2 separate regions of the Homo sapiens genome follow, and region 2 is linked to region 1. Evidence: fine-mapped expression QTL. A gene starts in region 1. The other region holds a variant in brackets. All regions are shown on one strand. Distances are from middle to middle.

Region 1 (8,328 bases):
GGGAACTCAATGTTAGATAAGCTTTTCTGTGTAACCAGCTTGGAGAACAGACTTCAGTAACAGCGTTTGTTTTCCATCACTGTGTGACTAGGTGGTGGTGACGAATACTGTCCCTCATGAGGTTCAGAAGCTGCAATGTCCCAAGATAAAGACTGTGGATATCAGTTTGATTCTTTCTGAAGCCATTCGGAGAATCCACAATGGAGAGTCCATGGCCTACCTTTTCCGAAACATCACTGTGGATGACTAGCTTTCACGAGGGTCTCGACCCTGGACCTCCTGAGGGAAACATGGAAAAAGCAGTGCCATGAGTGATACAGTGTTTCCTTGCAAGGGAGGACTCGAAACAGCCTGGAGTTAGATATCTTCTTTTGCCCGGATTGATGGGGAGGAGGGATTAAAAGAGTCAGGAAGAAGACAGAGCTAATGGATAAATATCATAACATGGCCTTACATGTCTGCTGTCATCAGCCCTGTTCCTTAAAAGTTCTAGCTGCTTTCTTAAAAATAATCTGAAAATCTTATTGATACTAAAGAGGAGTTAAAGGCACATAAAGTCTTAACTCTATAATGTTCATTTAGTTGTTTCAGCTCCAGGGAAATGGAGGTATTGATGTTGAACCTGGTTAGGGAAGCTGAGCGCCTGTGGCCCTATTACTATCCAGTTGGCCTCTCCCAAATCAACTTCAAGTCTTTTATAGAGAATCGTATTTTTCTTTCAGAAATTGTTATGCCTACAGCCATTGAAAAATGAAGCATTCATGTTGTTACATCTTCCAAGGATGTCAGATTAGAAAATAGCATCCCACCTCTGGGTATCTGAGTGGCTCTGAAGTTGCAAATAAAATAATTTGTTGTCTTGCTAGTCTTTTCATTAGACAGCAGAAGACCATGGATACAGAACAGCAGTCAGGTCTGTGGCTGGACACAAACACTTTCCCAGGTTCCACCCTCTTCCTAAGTGTTGAAGCTAAATCCTTGTTGAATACTGTATTTTAAATCTTTAAAAAAAAAAAAAAAAAGTCTAGGTGTGGTGGCTCACACCTATAATCTGAGTACTTTGGGAGGCTGAGGCAAGGAGGATTGCTTGAGCCCAGGAGTTTCAGACCAGCCTGGGAAACATGGCGAAACCCCCATGTCTACAAAAAATACAAAAATTAGCCAGGCATTGGTAGCATGTGCCTGTAGTTCCAGCTACCTTGGGAGGCTGAGGTGGGAGGATTGCCTGAGCCAAGGAGGTTGAAGCTGCAGTGAACTATGATTGTACCACTGCCATCCATCCTGGGTGACAGAGCAACACCCTGTCTCAAAAAAAAAAAACAGGCCAGGGATCGTGTCTTATGCCTGTAATCCCTGCACTTTGGGAGGCCGAGGCAGGTAGATCACCTGAGGTCAGGAGTTTGAGACCAGCCTGGCCAACATGGCAAAACCCCGTCTCTACTAAAAATACAAAAATTAGCCTAGCTAAGTTAAAAGCATAAAAAGACTACAAAGAGGCCAGGCATCATGGCTCACGCCTGTAATCCCAGCACTTTGGGAGGCCGAGGTGGGCAGATCACTTGAGGTCAGGAGTTTGAGACCAGCCTGGCCAATATGGTGAAACCCTGTCCCTACTAAAAATACAAAAATTAGCCGGGTGTTGGGGGAGGGGGTGCACGCCTGTAATCCCAGCTACTCGGGAGGCTGAGGCAGGAGAATTAATTGGTTGAACCCAAGAGGCAGAGATTGCAGTGAGCTGAGATTGTGCCACTGCACTCCAGCCCAAGTGACAGAGCAAGATTCCATCTCAAAAAAAAAAAAAGACTGCAAAGAACTAGTTATTTTGATAACCCCTTAAAGGCCTACTGTGTCCCAAGTTATTGGAATATAATGATGATCGAAAATCCTTCAATTAAATAAACAGTACCTCTCAGGCTGAAGTGAAAAATCTGAACTTGAACAGTAGTTAAAATAGTACAGTTATTCCTTACAATCCATGGGTGATTGGTTCCAGGACTCAACCTCCTGCCCATGGATGTGCAAGTCCCTGATAGAAAATGGTGTAGTATCTGCATATAAGCTATGCACATCCTGGATGACTTGTAATACCTACTGCAATATCCTGTGTAGATGGTGGTCATGCTGTATTATTTAGAGAATCATGACAGGAATCTGTACGTGTTCAGTCGTGGTTGGTTAAATCTGCAGATGCAGAGCTCACGGAGGAGGCTGGCCATGCATGGCACACATTCATAGGTTCTCTTTAAGTAGCCTTGCTGTGCTTCTGTTAGGAAGTTTTATTTATACGTTTTTGGGAAGAATCTTGTATGGGGAAGTCATGTCTCAATTGTTAACACCAGATTTGTCTCGTGCTGTTTAATCCTGCTTTGTAATGAGCTCAAGCACAGGCGCTTGACCAGGTGAGTGGTTTCTTTTCTTTTCTTTTTTTTTTTTTTTGAGACAGAGTCTTGCACTGTCGCCCAGGCTGGGGTGCAGTGGTGCGATCTTGGCTCACTGCAACCTCTGCCTCCCGGGTTGACGCGATTCTCCTGCCTCAGCCTCCCGAGTAGCTGGGATTACAGATGCGCGGTACCATGCCCGGCTAATTTTTTGTATTTTTAGCAGAGGGGTTTCACTATGTTGGCTAGGCTGGCCTTGAACCCCTTACCTCAGGTGATCCACCCGCCTCGGCCTCCCAAAGTGCTGGGATTACAGGTGTGAGCCACCAAGCCTGGCCGTTTTTTTGAGATCAATTAATTTATGGCAGGCTGGGCGCGGTGGCTTACACCTGTAATCCCAGCACTTTGGGAGGCCGAGGTGGGTCGATCACTTGAGGTCGGGAGTTCAAGACCAGCCTGGCCAACATAGTGAAACCCCGTCTCTGCTAAAAATACAAAAAATTAGCCGGGCATGGTACCACGCATCTGTAATCCCAGCTACTCGGGAGGCTGAGGCAGGAGAATCATGTCAACCCGGGAGGCAGAGGTTGCAGTGAGCCGAGATCGTGCCATTGCACTACAGCCTGGGCGACAGAGCAAGACTCCCTCTCAAAAGTAAAAAAAAAATTATGGCAGCACAGAAAAGGGACAATTAGCCACCAGTTAGTCATCTAGTGGCTAATTGGAACTGCCTGAATAGTGAGTGGGTTGTCTTTTCCAAGTTGCTTCACCTTTGATTGAACAAAATATGTGGACTGTCTGAGGGGACCAGGGCCCCAGGACTGCATCCCTTAGACATGGGGCCATAGACATGGGGCCACCACTCTGGAATGGACGCAGCTGATGACACAAAGCATGGTTGCCAGGAAACCCTCAAGTCTTTCCTTATGTGGCCCCGCCAAGAGTGAGTGAATCCTGGCCTTTCTAGGTTAAGGGGATGGATGGAGTCTAGCTGGATCTTAGGAGGCCTCCTCAGCCCGTTGCCAAGGCTCCCCTTGTGATCCTTGTGGTGGCCTTTACTTCCCCCCGCCCCCGTGGCTCGCAGGGAGGCGTGTTGTTACGTGGAATCTTCAGGGCACGCGGGGGCCCCCACGTTTCAAACGTCCGCCGGCGCGGGGACTGGGAGTCCAGGGCTCCAGCTCGGGGACCCGAGGCCAGCGACAGACAGCGGAGGGGTGGCCATCGCGGACCCCGCCGGGGAGCGGAGGCGCAGATTCCCTGGAGGCAGGAGCTCTGTCCAGTGACTCGGCCGGACCCGGGGCAGGGGCGCCCCGAGGACCTCGCAGGGCCCCCGAAAGGCCCCAAGGCGCGGCGTGCAGTGAGCGGGAAGTGGTTGGCCGGCGCCCCGCGGCGGCGCACAGCTCCTGACAGCCACGATGCCGCCCGCGACCACGGTCTCCCTCCGGGAGCTGGCGGACCTCTCCATCGGCACGCCAGAGGTGGGCGCCGTCAACTTCACGGCCCTGCACACGCTCATCGTGGCCATGCTCAAGAACCTCGACCTCCAAAATACCCGGATCGACTTCCAGCCCTCGTCGCCCGAGCCCAGCCGCTCGCTGCAGTCCGTCCGGAGCTCGTTCAGCATCCCGCACCTGCCCGCGCCCAAGGAGGTGCCCAAGGGGGCGCCCCGGGAGAAGCGCAGGGGCGTGGGCCAGGCGCCTTCGTCAGCGCTGGAGAGCCAAGTGAAGGACCTGGGCGGCCAGGTGGAGGACCTGAGCAAGCAGCTCAAGCGTGTGGACGGCCAGGTGCAGGGCATCGCCACGCACGTGCAGCACTTCTCCCAGGCCAGCGGGCTTGACCTGGCCGCGCTAGAGTGGCCGGAGGAGCAGGAGGTGGGCGTGCGGGCGTTCGATAGGGTGCGGACTGGGAGTATCATGAAGGACGCCGCCGAGGAGCTCAGCTTTGCCAGGGTGAGCACGCACACGGAGGCACGCGCAGGCCGTCTGCCTCCTCCAGGCCGCCCTCCAGGCCTAGCCGAGTCCCCACCACCCTGGAGGGGTGAGCGGTGGTGGGGACGGAGGGGATGGGGACCGAGGAGGTGCCAGACCTCAGTGCGACTGGCTAAATAGAGTGGCCCATGCTCTACCTTGCAGTCCACGGGGCTGCAAGACGTGAAAATCCTAAAAGAACGCCACCAAAAGGCCTAGGGCCTCCCCGAGCTGGAGGGGCCTGGGGACCCCACCTCCTAAGTGTAGTGGCCCCATCCCACCCCCTCCTTCCTAGCCCCTGTTTACGGGAGAGGTTCGCCCACCACTTATCAGACATCCAAGGACCCAGAGCTGGCTCAGAGTGGGGCCGGCAACTTCTCAGAAGATTCTTAGAGTGAATTCCCTTTTTAAAATGAATAAGGACATGAAGAGATACGTGTTGAGGACAAAGGCTCCCAGAGAAGGGGAGTCAGGATGGAGAGTTGGACCTCAGCTTCCTATGGCCATGACACAAGCCACAGCAGGCAGGGGACCGTTTCACTTGGACTTTTTTTTTTTTTGAGAAGGAGTCTCACTCTATCACCCAGGCTGAAATGCAGTGGTGCAGTCTCGGCTCACTGCAACTTCCGCCTCCCAGACTCAAGCGATTCTCCTGCCTCAGCCTCCCGAGTAGCTGGGATTATAGGCGCGCGCCACCCCGCCTGGCTAATATTTGTGTTTTTAGTAGAGAAGGAGTTTCACCATGTTGGCGGGGCTGGTCTCAAACTCCTGACCTCAAGTGATCTGCCCGCCTCGGCCTCCCAAAGTGCTGGGCATTACAGGCGTGAGCCACTGAGCCCTGCCTTCAACTGGACTTTTGTTTTCTTGGAGGGACAAATGCATGTAATCATTGAGTATAAGTATTGTCCAGTGAACAGCAGGAAGCAACGCAGGTCAGCGCCAGGAGGTAATAGACACGTGCATGTCTCAGAGCCACCTTAGGTTGGTTCTGAAAGAAAAAGCAGAAGCAACTAGGAAGGCAGCTGGGTGGGGAGGCCAAGAGGAGAGACAGGAGGGGAAAAAGAGGCCGGGAAGAGGCAGGAAGAAGAGGCCAAGCCCCAGCAGGGGAGCCCTGGCCGCTCATGCCCTCCTGCCATATCACCCCAGGTCTCGAGACCGCAGCACCAACTCACTTTTGCTCTGGGAAGCATGTCTGCTTTCCTTTTCAAACTTTAAAGTGTGGTGGGGGTTTTTTTTGTTTTAATTTTTTTGGGTTTTTTTTTTTTTTTTTTTTTTTTTGAGACACATTCTCACTCTGTCACCCAGGCTGGAGTGCAGTGGTGCATTGTCGGCTCACTGCAACTCCATCTCCTGGGTTCAAGGAATTCTCCTGCCTCGGCTTCCCGAGTAGCTAGGATTATAGGTGCACACCACCATGCCCAGCTAACTTTTGTACTTTTAGTAGAGATGGGGTTTTGCCGTGTTGGCCAGGCTGGTCTCGAACTCCTGACCTAAAGTGATCCTCCTGCCTCGGCTTCCCAAAGTGTTGGGATTACAGGCAAGAGCCACTGCGCCTGGCCTTTTGTTTTAATTTTTACGTAATCTTAGATTCTAGAAGTTTGCAAAAGTTATAAAAAGTAACTTGTTTTATTTTTGTTTATTAATATATTTTTTCTTAATCCCAAATATGATAGCACCTTATGTTGTAGCGATTTGCTTTGGTTCTTTTGAGGTGCTTTTCTCTTTAGATAGCACAGATGTTCAGCTACTGTTGAGGTACCTGGCACCCTTCCTTCCTTGTAAGGCAAGGTGGGCCTCATCCTACAGGCTTTCACAAGTGGGTTGGAGCAAACTGAATCCCAGGACCAAAGGGTCCCATCCCTGCAGCAGCACTTACTCCTGCCATGCTACCAGCCAGGTCCCCCACTGCATCTCACTTCCCTTCCTGCACTTGGCTGGGAAAAGACCCAGGAGCCTGGGCTGACTGGCCAGGTAAAAACCAGGTAGAAAGCAGGGGCTCCTGCCTGTAATCTCAGCACTGTGGGAGGCCGAGGCTGGAGGATTGCTCGGACCCAGGAGTTCAAGACCAGCCTGGGCAACATTGCAAGATCTTATCTCTACAAAAAAATGTTTAAAATTAGCTGGATGTGGTGGTGCATGCCTGAAGTCCCAGCTACTCAGGAGGCTGAGGTGGGAGGATCGCTTGAGCCTGAGAGGTTGAGGCTGCAGTGAGCTGTGGTGGCATCACTGCACTGCAGCTTGGGTGACAGAGCAAGACCCTGTCTCAAAAAAAAAAAAAAAAGGAAACCAAAAAAACCCAAGTAGAAGAAGAAACCCTCCCTTTCCATAAGAGCCACACAAATTCCCCCTTTCCTCGTCTCCTGGCACTGAGTCAGTGTGTGAATGTGCGTGTATGCATGTGTGTGTCTGAGTGTGAGAGTGTGTGTGCGCATCTGTGTGTGTGTGCATGTGAGTGTGCGTGTGTAGGGGCCACTGTCATTCTCCTTTCCTGAACTCTTCTTCCAGGTACTTTTACAGCGGGTTGATGAACTAGAGAAGCTATTCAAAGATCGGGAGCAATTCCTGGTAATACCAGCCAGTTCCATGGGAAAGGGCTCTCCAGGGGGCTGGCCGTCTCTCAGTGTGGCCCTCTCTCCAGGGCTTGTCCATCCAGGGCAGGCAGTGTGTGCCCTCTGCCTCTCAAGTCTCTGCCCCAGGGTTGGAGGGAAATCTGCCCCAGCCCTGCCCAGCGCTCTGCTGGGTGCTCACATGGGACAGATAACTGGCTGCCCAACCTTCACTGGTCACTTGAAGGGTGATGAATTCTCCCTGGGGCTGGGGCTGTGAAGGACCCACCCAGATCCTGTTAGACCAAGTCTGTTCCTAAAGCTGCTTGGGATTAATCAAGGGGTGTATGTGTGTGTCTTTTCTGTCACTGTCAGGAACTAGTCAGCCGGAAGCTGAGTTTGGTTCCTGGTGCAGAAGAAGTCACCATGGTCACCTGGGAAGAGCTGGAGCAGGCGATTACGGACGGCTGGAGAGCCTCACAAGCGGTGAACCAGTGGGGGCCTGGGCCGTGGTCTTGGGTGGGGCTCCCCAGAACTTCTCGCTTTGTACAGCTGCACAGGATTCTGTTCTATGGATATTCATAGTTCGCAAGTTTCATTGATATGGGTGTTTTAAATGCTTTTTCCAATCTTAAGAACAAGGTGTCATTCACGTGTGAATAACATGCATCCCTAGAAAGGGATGTGTGTTAGTGATTTGGCTAGCCATTGATAAATTGCCTTCCATGGCTGCTGTTCCAGTGTAGACCCCCACCATCAATGGGAGAGAGAGCTTGTTCCCTGACATCCCCCCAGCGCTGTATGGTTGGTACCCAATTTTTTTAGCTTTGCCAACCCACTGGATCAATAGAAAAATCGTACCTGAGTGTAGTTTTTATTTGCTTTTATACCTTCTCAAACTTTCTTTACAGTCTGTCCTGAAATGCAGGGATCTTTCCTTATTAGTGGACCATGGTGACAGACCCTGGAAGTAAAACCTCTGTAGGGGGCCCTTTGCTGGTGGCGACTTTTTTTTTTTTTTTTTTTTTGAGACAGAGTTTTGCTCTATTACCCAGGCTGGAGTGCAGTGGCGCGATCTCGGCTCACTGCAAGCTCCGCCTCCCGGGTTCACGCCATTCTCCTGTCTCAGCCTCCAGAGTAGCTGGGACTACAGGCGCCCACCACCACGCCTGGCTAATTTCTTTTTGTATTTTTAGTAGAGACGGGGTTTCACGGTGTTGCCCAGGAAAGTCTCGATCTCCTCACCTCGTGATCCGCCCGCCTCGGCCTCCCAAAGTGCTGGGATTACAGGCGTGAGCCACCGCGCCCGGCCGCTGGTGGCGACTTTTGCACACAGGCATGCATCTGTCTGTCTTGAGACAGTGTACAGATGACCAAATTGTTTTCCGATCCCCGACCTACTTTCATCTGATTAAAATCAAGCTGGATATATTCAAA
Region 2 (8,318 bases), 55 kb before region 1:
TGAGGCTTGCTCAGGCATGGCTCACACTTGTAATCCTAGTACTTTGGGAAGCCGAGGCAGGCAGATCACCTGAGGTCAGGTGAGAGAGAGAAAGAGAAAAATGAGGGGCTGGGCGGGGTGGCTCACGTCTGTAATCCCAGCACTTTGGGAGGTCAAGGTGGGTGGATCACCTGAGGTCAGAAGTTCGAGACCAGCCTGACCAACATGGTGAAACCCCGTCTCTACTAAAAATACAAATATTAGCCAGGTGTGGTGGCAGGCGCCTATAATCCCAGCTACCCGGGAGGATGAGCAGGAGAATCACTTGAACCTGGGGGTTGGAGGTTGCAGTGAGCTGAGATCACGCCACTTCTTTCCAGCCTGGGCGAAAGAGCGAAACTCCATCTCAAAAAAAAAAAAGATTGAGGCCTTTTCTCACAGACACCAGCTCTCCCCAAAAGGTGGCCCCTTCCCTCACTTCTCTCCCTCTTTCTTTCAGGGCAGGTGCAATGACATTTGACACCAACTACCTGGGGTTGGGCCTCAGGTGATGCCTTCCTCCACAGGACAGCCCTCACTTCAGACACCAGCTGCAAGTTCAGGGTCCTCACTTTTGACCAGATGGCCTCAAATTCAGGGGTTCCCACCACCCCCTCAGATTCCTAATTCACTAGAATGACTCACAGCACTCAGGTAAATGCTGAAGTTTCATTTACAGTTTTATTACAGCAAAAGAACACGAATCAGAACCAGCCACAGCCAGAAGCACTGCGTCCGGGCTGGGTGGGTCCCCGGTGCAAAGCGCTGTTATCCTCAGGGACACCTTAACCCTCCTGGTACCTCCATCTGTGACAATAGACAGAGCATCACTAACCAGGGAAGCTCACCCGAGCCTCTGTGTAGAGTTGTCCTTGGGGTTTTATATGCAGGCATGATGGAGGAATCATACACCACACACTAAACTCAAGCTCCAGCCCCTCCGTCCCCGGAAGTCAGGCTGATAACAAGTGGCTCAAAGACCCAACCTTCTAATTTTGTTTTCTTTTTCTTTCTGCTTTTTTTTTTTTTTTTTTTTTTGAGACAGGTTCTTGCTGTGTTGTTCAGGCTGGAGTGCAGTGGTGTGATCACGGCTCACTGCAGCCTCAAACTCCTGGGCTCAAATGATCCTCCCTTATGGTCCCTCTTATGGGACCGTAAGCATGCACCAACACACCCAGCTAATTTTTAAATTTTTTTGTTTGTTTGTTTGTTTTGAGACAAGGGCTCCCTCTGTCGCCCAGGCTGGAGTGCAGTGGAAGGATCATAGCTCACTGTAGCCTCAATCACCTTCCATCACCCAGGCTCCAGAGCCACAGCCTTCTAATCTCACGGTTGGTCTTCCTGGACCTAGAGTCATTTGCATAAATGATCGGGTGTCCTCCGAGGCCCGATCGTGAGTAACACAGACACTACTATCACTCAGGAAATTCTGAGGATTTACAGGTTACCTCCCAGGAACCAGGAACAAAAGCCAGTGGAATTCTCAATTCCACACAGGGTTGACAGCGTCAGTGTCGAGAGGCATCTCCCAGCCAGCCCCCTCAGTGGGTGGTTCCCTGAACCAAGAATTGGGGGTGCATTTTATTCTCAGCGGTGGGCTCTCCTAATTCCAGGAAAACGTGGAGGATCACACAGGGCACCTCACTCCTCCTTGTCATCCACTCTCCATCTCATTTAGCTCTCACAGCAACCTCCAGGCAGGGTCAGGCATGAGCCACTGTACCCAGCCTTTTTTTTTTTTTTTTTTTGAGACAGAGTCTCTCTCTGTTTCCCCGGCTGGAGTAAAGTGGTGCGATCTCTGCAACCTCCACATCCTGGGTTCAAGCAATTCTCCTGCCTCAGCCTCCCAAGTAGCTGGAATTACAGGCTCGCGCCACCACACCCAGCTAATTTTTTGTATTTTTAGTAGAGATGGAGTTTCGCCATGTTGCCCAGGCTGGTCTCAAACTTCTGACCTCGAGTGATCCGCCCGCCTCGGCCAGCCAAAGTGCTGGGATTACAGGCATGAGCCACTGTGCCCGGCCTAAGGCTTGATTTATACATTTTAGGAAGACAGAAGTTACAGGAAAAGACATAAATGGACAGAGGTAAGGTATACATTGGCTCAGCCCAGAAAGGTGGGACATCTTGAAGTGGGGGTGGTTTCCAGGTCATAGGTAGATTTCAACATTTGCTGATTGGCAATTTGTTGAAAATGGTAAGCTCTGCCTGAAGAGCTGAAATCAGCTTGAGTTATGGTAAGTGGTGGGTGGTTGTGGAAGCCAAAGTTCTTGTCTTGTAGATGACGCCTTCAGGTAGCAGGCTTCTGAGAGAAGAGATGTGAATGTCACAGGTGCCAGTCTCTCCAGAGAGACCTGAGAAGGGAAGGGGATTCTCTACAGAATGCAGATTTCCCCCATAAAAGAAAGCTTTGGAGGGCCATTTCAAAATATGTCAAAAAAATGTATTTTGGGAGACCAGGCGCGGTGGCTCATGCCTGTAATCCCAACACTTTGGGAGGCCAAGGTGGCTGGTGGATCACCTGAGGTCAAGAGTTCAAGACCAGCCTGGCCACCATGGTGAAACCCCATCTACTAAAAATACAAAAATTAGCTGGGCATGGTGGCAGGCACCTGTAATCCCACTACTCGGGAGGCTGAGGCAGGAGGCCAAGGTTGCAGTGAGCCAAGATGGCACCATTGCACTCCAGTCTAGACAAGAGCGAAACTCCATCTCAAAATTTAAAAAAAGAAATATACTTTGGGGAAAATCCTTTTGTTACTGGTGGAGGGTGTCCAGGTTTTTGGTGTCTTAAATAATTGTACAAAATTCACAAACAAACAAAGGAAAGAATGAAGCAACAAAAGCAGAGACTTATTGAAAACAAAAGTACAGGCCGGGCGCGGTGGCTCACGCCTGTAATCCCTGCAGCATTTTGGGAGGCCAAGGCAGGCGGATTACTTGGGGCCAGGAGTTCGAGACCAGCCTGGCCAACATGGTGAAACCCCGACTCTACTAAAAATACAAAAATTAGGCCAGGCGCGGTAGCTCATGCCTGTAATCCCAGCACTTTGGGAGGCCAAGGCAGGCGGATCACGAGATCAGGAGTTCAAAACCAGCCTGGCCAATATGGTGAAACCCCCATCTTTACTAAAAATACAAAAATTAGCTGGGCGTGGTGGTGCGTGCCTGTAATTCCAGCTACTCAGGAGGCTGAGGCAGAAGAATCGCTTGAACCCAAGAGGCGGGGTTTGCAGTGAGCTGAGATCGTGCAGCTGCACTCCACCCTGGGCAACAGAGGAAGACTCTGTCTCAGAAACAAAACAAAACAAAAATTATCTGGGCGTGGTGGCGATGCCTATAATCCCAGCTACTCAGGAGGCTGAGACA[T/C]GAGAATTTCTTGAACCTGAGATCGTGTCACTGCATTCCAACTTGGGTGACAGGGCAAGACTCTGTCTCAAAAAAAAAAGAAAAAACAAAACAAAAGTACACTCCACAGGGTGAGAGCAGCCTGAGCATAGGGGCTAATTTTTGGGGGTTTAAATACCCTCTAGAAGTTTCCATTGGTTACTTGGTGTACGCCCTATGTAAATGAAGGGATGAAGTAAAGTTACAAAGTCATTCACTCGGTGTACGCCCTATGTAAATGGAGAGGATATTTCCTGTCATAGTTGAAGTGTTTCCATTTGATTCAGTTCTAGGAAGTCCTTAGAGTCCCTGCTTCCAGATCCTATTCTCCTGTCTCACTTTGATTGCCTTTTTTTTTTTTTTTTTTTTAAGAGACAGGGTCTCACAGCTCACTGCATCCTCAACCTCCTGGGCTCAAGGGATCCTCCCACCTCAGCTTCCCAATTAGCTGGGAATACAGACATGAACCACCATGCCCAGCTAACTTTTGTGTTTTTTGTAGAGATAGGGTTTCACCATGTTGCCCAGGCTGGTCTTGAATTCTAGGCTCAAGCCATCCGCCCGCCTTGGCCTCCCAAAGTGCTGGGATTACAGGCGTGAGCCACCACGCCCAGCCTTATTTTTTTTACTATTTTATTTTTTGAGACAGGGTTTTGCTCTTGTTGCCCAGGCTGGAGTACAGTGGCGCCATCTCAGCTCGCTGCAACCTCTGCCTCCCAGCTTCAAGCAATTCTCCTGCCTCAGCCTCCTGAGTAGCTGGAATTGCAGGCATCTGCCACCATGCCCAGCTAGTTTTTTGTATTTTTAGTAGAGATGGGTTTCACCATGTTGGCCAGGCTGGTCTCAAACTCCTGACCTCAGGTGATCCTCCCGCCTTGGCCTCCCAAGGGAGGCTGGGATTATAAATGTGAGCCTCCATGGCCGGCCCATAGCTGCCTTTGGACATTTGCATTGTTTGGGGGTTTTTAGCTCTCATAGACCTGGACCCTCTTGAACTGACAAATTTGGCACAGTTGAGCCAAGAACCTTGTGACTTCCTGAATCATTTGCCTCCTGAGTTGTTATAATGTCTCCTTAGTGTTTGCCTCCTGCCTTCTCAGCCCCTACAGCCCTGGCCTTTTTCCTTGCTCCGTTTCTGTCTCTTCCACCCCATCTTGCCAGTGCAGCTATGAATCCGGCCATAGGGGCAAGGAAGCATGTCATTTGGCAGGAGCTTCTGCGGTGCACAGAGAGAAGGCACTAGAAGCCCCTTGAGGGTTTCCACTTGAACCAAAGTCTTCAATGATGTTCGGGCATTTCAGACCCCCTCAAATGCCTCCAAAGACTCCCACCAAGAGCTACTGAAACCGAGGCATAGGTGAGGTCGAGGACTCAGTGCCTTGTGATTCCATTTCAGATTTTCCAGAGACCAGCCCAGCAGCTGCTGCCTACCACTGTCCTTGCTGAAGCTGGGAAGGGTCACTCCTAGCAGGCTTGGCTCTGTCTGCCTGTATTTTGCTCCTGCCCCCAGCATGGTTTCTGGTACCCTATAGAGAGAATCAGCTTAGAGATCCAAGTTGGTATTATTTTTAGAAATAAAGATCACTCAGTCCCAGCTTGCTGAGGCTTGTTTGGAGAATGAAAACAGGGAAAGGCCTCATATTTTTCCAAAGTTCAAGTTGGAGTGGCGCAACGTGGATGCAAAACTTCTGAATTATTGCCTGAAATGTTCTTTATCCTTGCAAAGACTGACCTTGTCTTCCAATTAGTTCCTCCCTTGGGGACAGGGCTGAGCAATCCTAAACACACCCCTCTTTGTCTTGTCCTGTTTGTTCCTGGACAATATTTCATGCCAAATCTCTACTTATGCCACCCTTTGTCTTCTAGTTTCTAGTACAGAGGAGATCTTTCTATAATTCATGCCGAAACTGGCCCGGTTAACAAGCAGCTCATTTTTTAAAACTTGAAAACTGAAATAGGGTTGTAGATGCAAAATGTCATTTTGTGGAGGCACAGCTGTCTTCGTTCTGGCAGGAGGTATCCAGCTGGTCTGGAACCTCAAGAGTCAGTCTGGTCTTATAAAGAGAAACGGTAAAAAAAACAAAACTGGTCAAGTGAAGTCTCACTTCAAACGTCAAAAAAGACATGTTAAGGCCGGGCGCGGTGGCTCACGCCTGTAATCCCAGCACTTTGGGAGGCCGAGGCGGGCGGATCACAAGGTCAGGAGTTCAAGACCACCCTGGCCAATATGGTTGAAACCCCATCTCTACTAAAAATACAAAAATTACCCAGGCGTGGTGGCGCATGCCTGTAATCCCAGCTACTTGGGAGGCTGAGGCAGGATAATTGCTTGAACCCAGGAGGCGGAGGTTGTGGTGAGCCGAGATTGTGCCGTTGCACTCCAGCCTGGGTGACAAGAGCAAAACTTCATTTCAAAAAAAGAAAAAATCAGCCGGGCGCGGTGGCTCATGCCTGTAATCCCAGCACTTTGGGAGGCCGAGGAGGGCGGATCACAAGGTCAGGAGATCGAGACCATCCTGGCTAACACGGTGAAACCCCGTCTCTACTAAAAATACAAAAAATTAGCCAGGCGTGGTGGCGGGCGCCTGTCGTCCCAGCTACTCAGGAGGCTGAGGCAGGAGAATGGCGTGAACCCGGGAGGCGGAACTTGCAGTGAGCCGAGATTGTGCCACTGCACTCCAGCCTGGGTGACAGAGCAAGACTCAGTCTCAAAAAAAAAAGAAAGAAAGAAAGAAAAAAATCCCTGACCCATCAGTAAAAATGAAGACTCTGTGGAAGTTGTCAGAAGCAAAATTGAGTCACTTGTGTTAAAACAAAACAAAAAGCTCTGACAAATAGAGCTGGGAAAGGCTATAAAGAGAAGGTTCTTATGCATAAATGCCAGATAACAAAAACTATCACGGAAGACTCAGCAAAAATCACAACCTTGCACAAAGGCCACTGAAACCTTACACAAAAAATACTTCTGCGAGGGCATCTGCCCAGCAACTGCCTGTACAACCTGGCACTGGGTCACACTTGTTGTTGATCCTTGTAGCCAAGGAAAATTATCCCAAAACAATTGTGTAATCCCCCTCAATCTTCCTCTAAAAACGTTCGTCCTCCTTTACCTAGTTGGATACACACATAGTTTACTATGGCACACATATTCCCATTGTCATGCCCGATCCCAAATAAACGTTGCTTTATTTCAGAGAGTCTCTCTCTCTTTTTTGTTTTGAGACAGAGTCTCACTCTGTTGCCCAGGCTGGAGTGCAATGGGGCGATCTCGGCTCACTGCAACCTCAGCCTCCCGGATTCAAGCGATTCTCCTGCCCTAGCCTCACTAGCAGCTGCGAATATAGGCGGATGCCACAACACCCAGCTAATTTTTGTATTTTTAGTAGAGACAGGCTTTCACCATGTTGGTCAGGCTGGTCTCGAACTCCTGACCTCAGGTGATCCTCCCACCTCGGCCTCCCAAAGTGCTGGAATTACAGGCGTGAGCCACCATGCTGGGCCACAAATTCTGTTTAACAAGATTAAATCTGACTCCAAGTCCTCTGCCAGGACTGGTACATAAAAGAGCCCCAGGGCCTTCCGCAGTTCCTGAGCTTCAAGGAGAGCCTCCGGTCTTCATTCTTTCCTCATCTTTATGAGAGTCCCCAGGGTACTTGTTGGAGTCCCCACCTCCTCGTCCAACTGTCCCTTCAATTTGTGAGGACTCCCCCTCTCCAAGGCTGGGGCACTCAGGGACACTTCAGTTCTTGCCTTTGGGAATTTAGGCTTTCAATAATAAAAGCCTCAATTCCAGCTGCTCGGGAGCGTCATTTGAACCCAGGAGTTTGAGTCCAGCCTGGGTAACATAGTGAGACCCTGTCTCTTAAAAAATAAATAAATAAAAATAATAAAAGCCTCTTAAGGGAGTCTCAGGTCCTCAAACACGTCCCTGTGCGCCTTCTTTCTCTTAAGACATGCAGGAAAATATGACTCAGATAATGTCTAAGTCAGGTTATTTTGCCACTTTGTTTATGAGCATTTCCCCATCATCAATGATTCTTTTAAAAGCAAACCTTTTTTTTTTCGTTTGAGACAGTCTTGCTCTGTCACCCAGGCTGGAGTGCAATGGTGTGGTCTTGGCTCACTGCAACCTCCACCTCCCGGGTTTAAGTGATTCTCATGCCTCAGCCTCCCGAGTAGCTGGGATCCGAGGTGCTCCTCACCACATCTGGTTAATTTTTGTATTTTTAGTAGAGATGTGGTTTCGCCATGTTGGCCAGGCTGGCCTTGAACTCCTGATCTCAGGTGATCCACCTGCCTTGGCCTCCCGAAGTGCTGGGATTGTAGGCGTGAGCCATTGTGCCAGACAAAGCAAACGTTTTTTTTTTAATTTTAATTTATTATTTATTTATTTAGAGACAGGGTCTCGCTCTGTGGCCCAAGCTAGAGTGCAGTGGCGCAATCTCGGCTCACTGCAACCTCCACCTCCCAGGTTAAAGCGATTCTCCTACCTCAGCCTCCTGAGTAACTGAGATTACAGGTGCCTGCTACCACACCTGGCTAATTTTTGTTATTTTTAGTAGAGATGGGTTTTGCCATGTTGGCCAGGCTGGTCTCAAACTCCTGACCTCAGGTAATCCACTAGCCTCGGCCGCCCAAAATGCTGAGATTACAGGCATGAGCCACCATGCCCAGCCTTGTTTGATTAATTGATTGATTGCTTGATTGATTTTGAGATGGAGTCTCGCTCTGTCGCGCAGGCTGGAGTGCAATGGCGTGATCTTGGCTCGCTGCAACCTCCACCTCTGGGTTCAAGCCATTCTCCTGCCTCAGCCTCCCGAGTAGCTGGGATTACAGGCGCCCACCACCACGCCCAGCTACTTTTTTGTATTTTTAGTAGAGACAGGGTTTCACTATGTTGGCCAGGCTGGTCT

Direction of the effects. Positions count from the first base shown, and alleles are read on the strand shown. Sizes are in standard deviations (SD) of each study's normalised expression.
As copies of C replace T in region 2, the expression in esophagus mucosa of the gene that starts at base 3,516 in region 1 goes up (moderate effect, 0.57 SD a copy in GTEx).

Evidence for each region. PIP is the estimated chance that this variant, and not a neighbour inherited with it, causes the effect.
Region 2: its variant is fine-mapped to the expression of QRICH2 in esophagus mucosa (GTEx, PIP above 0.99).

The regions. Positions count from the first base shown.
Region 1 is chr17:76,303,464-76,311,791 of GRCh38, reverse strand. QRICH2 (glutamine rich 2) reads left to right here and starts at 3,516. Exons shown (of 19, transcript NM_001388453.1): 1 at 3,516-4,327; 2 at 6,851-6,910; 3 at 7,267-7,377. The coding sequence starts at 3,794. PRPSAP1 (phosphoribosyl pyrophosphate synthetase associated protein 1) reads left to right here. Exons shown (of 10, transcript NM_002766.3): 10 at 92-2,314. The coding sequence ends at 250.
Region 2 is chr17:76,358,628-76,366,945 of GRCh38, reverse strand. No RefSeq gene overlaps it. Among named protein-coding and RNA genes, the nearest start is that of PRPSAP1, 8.9 kb to the right of the region's middle. The variant T/C (reference allele first, on the strand shown) is at 3,388.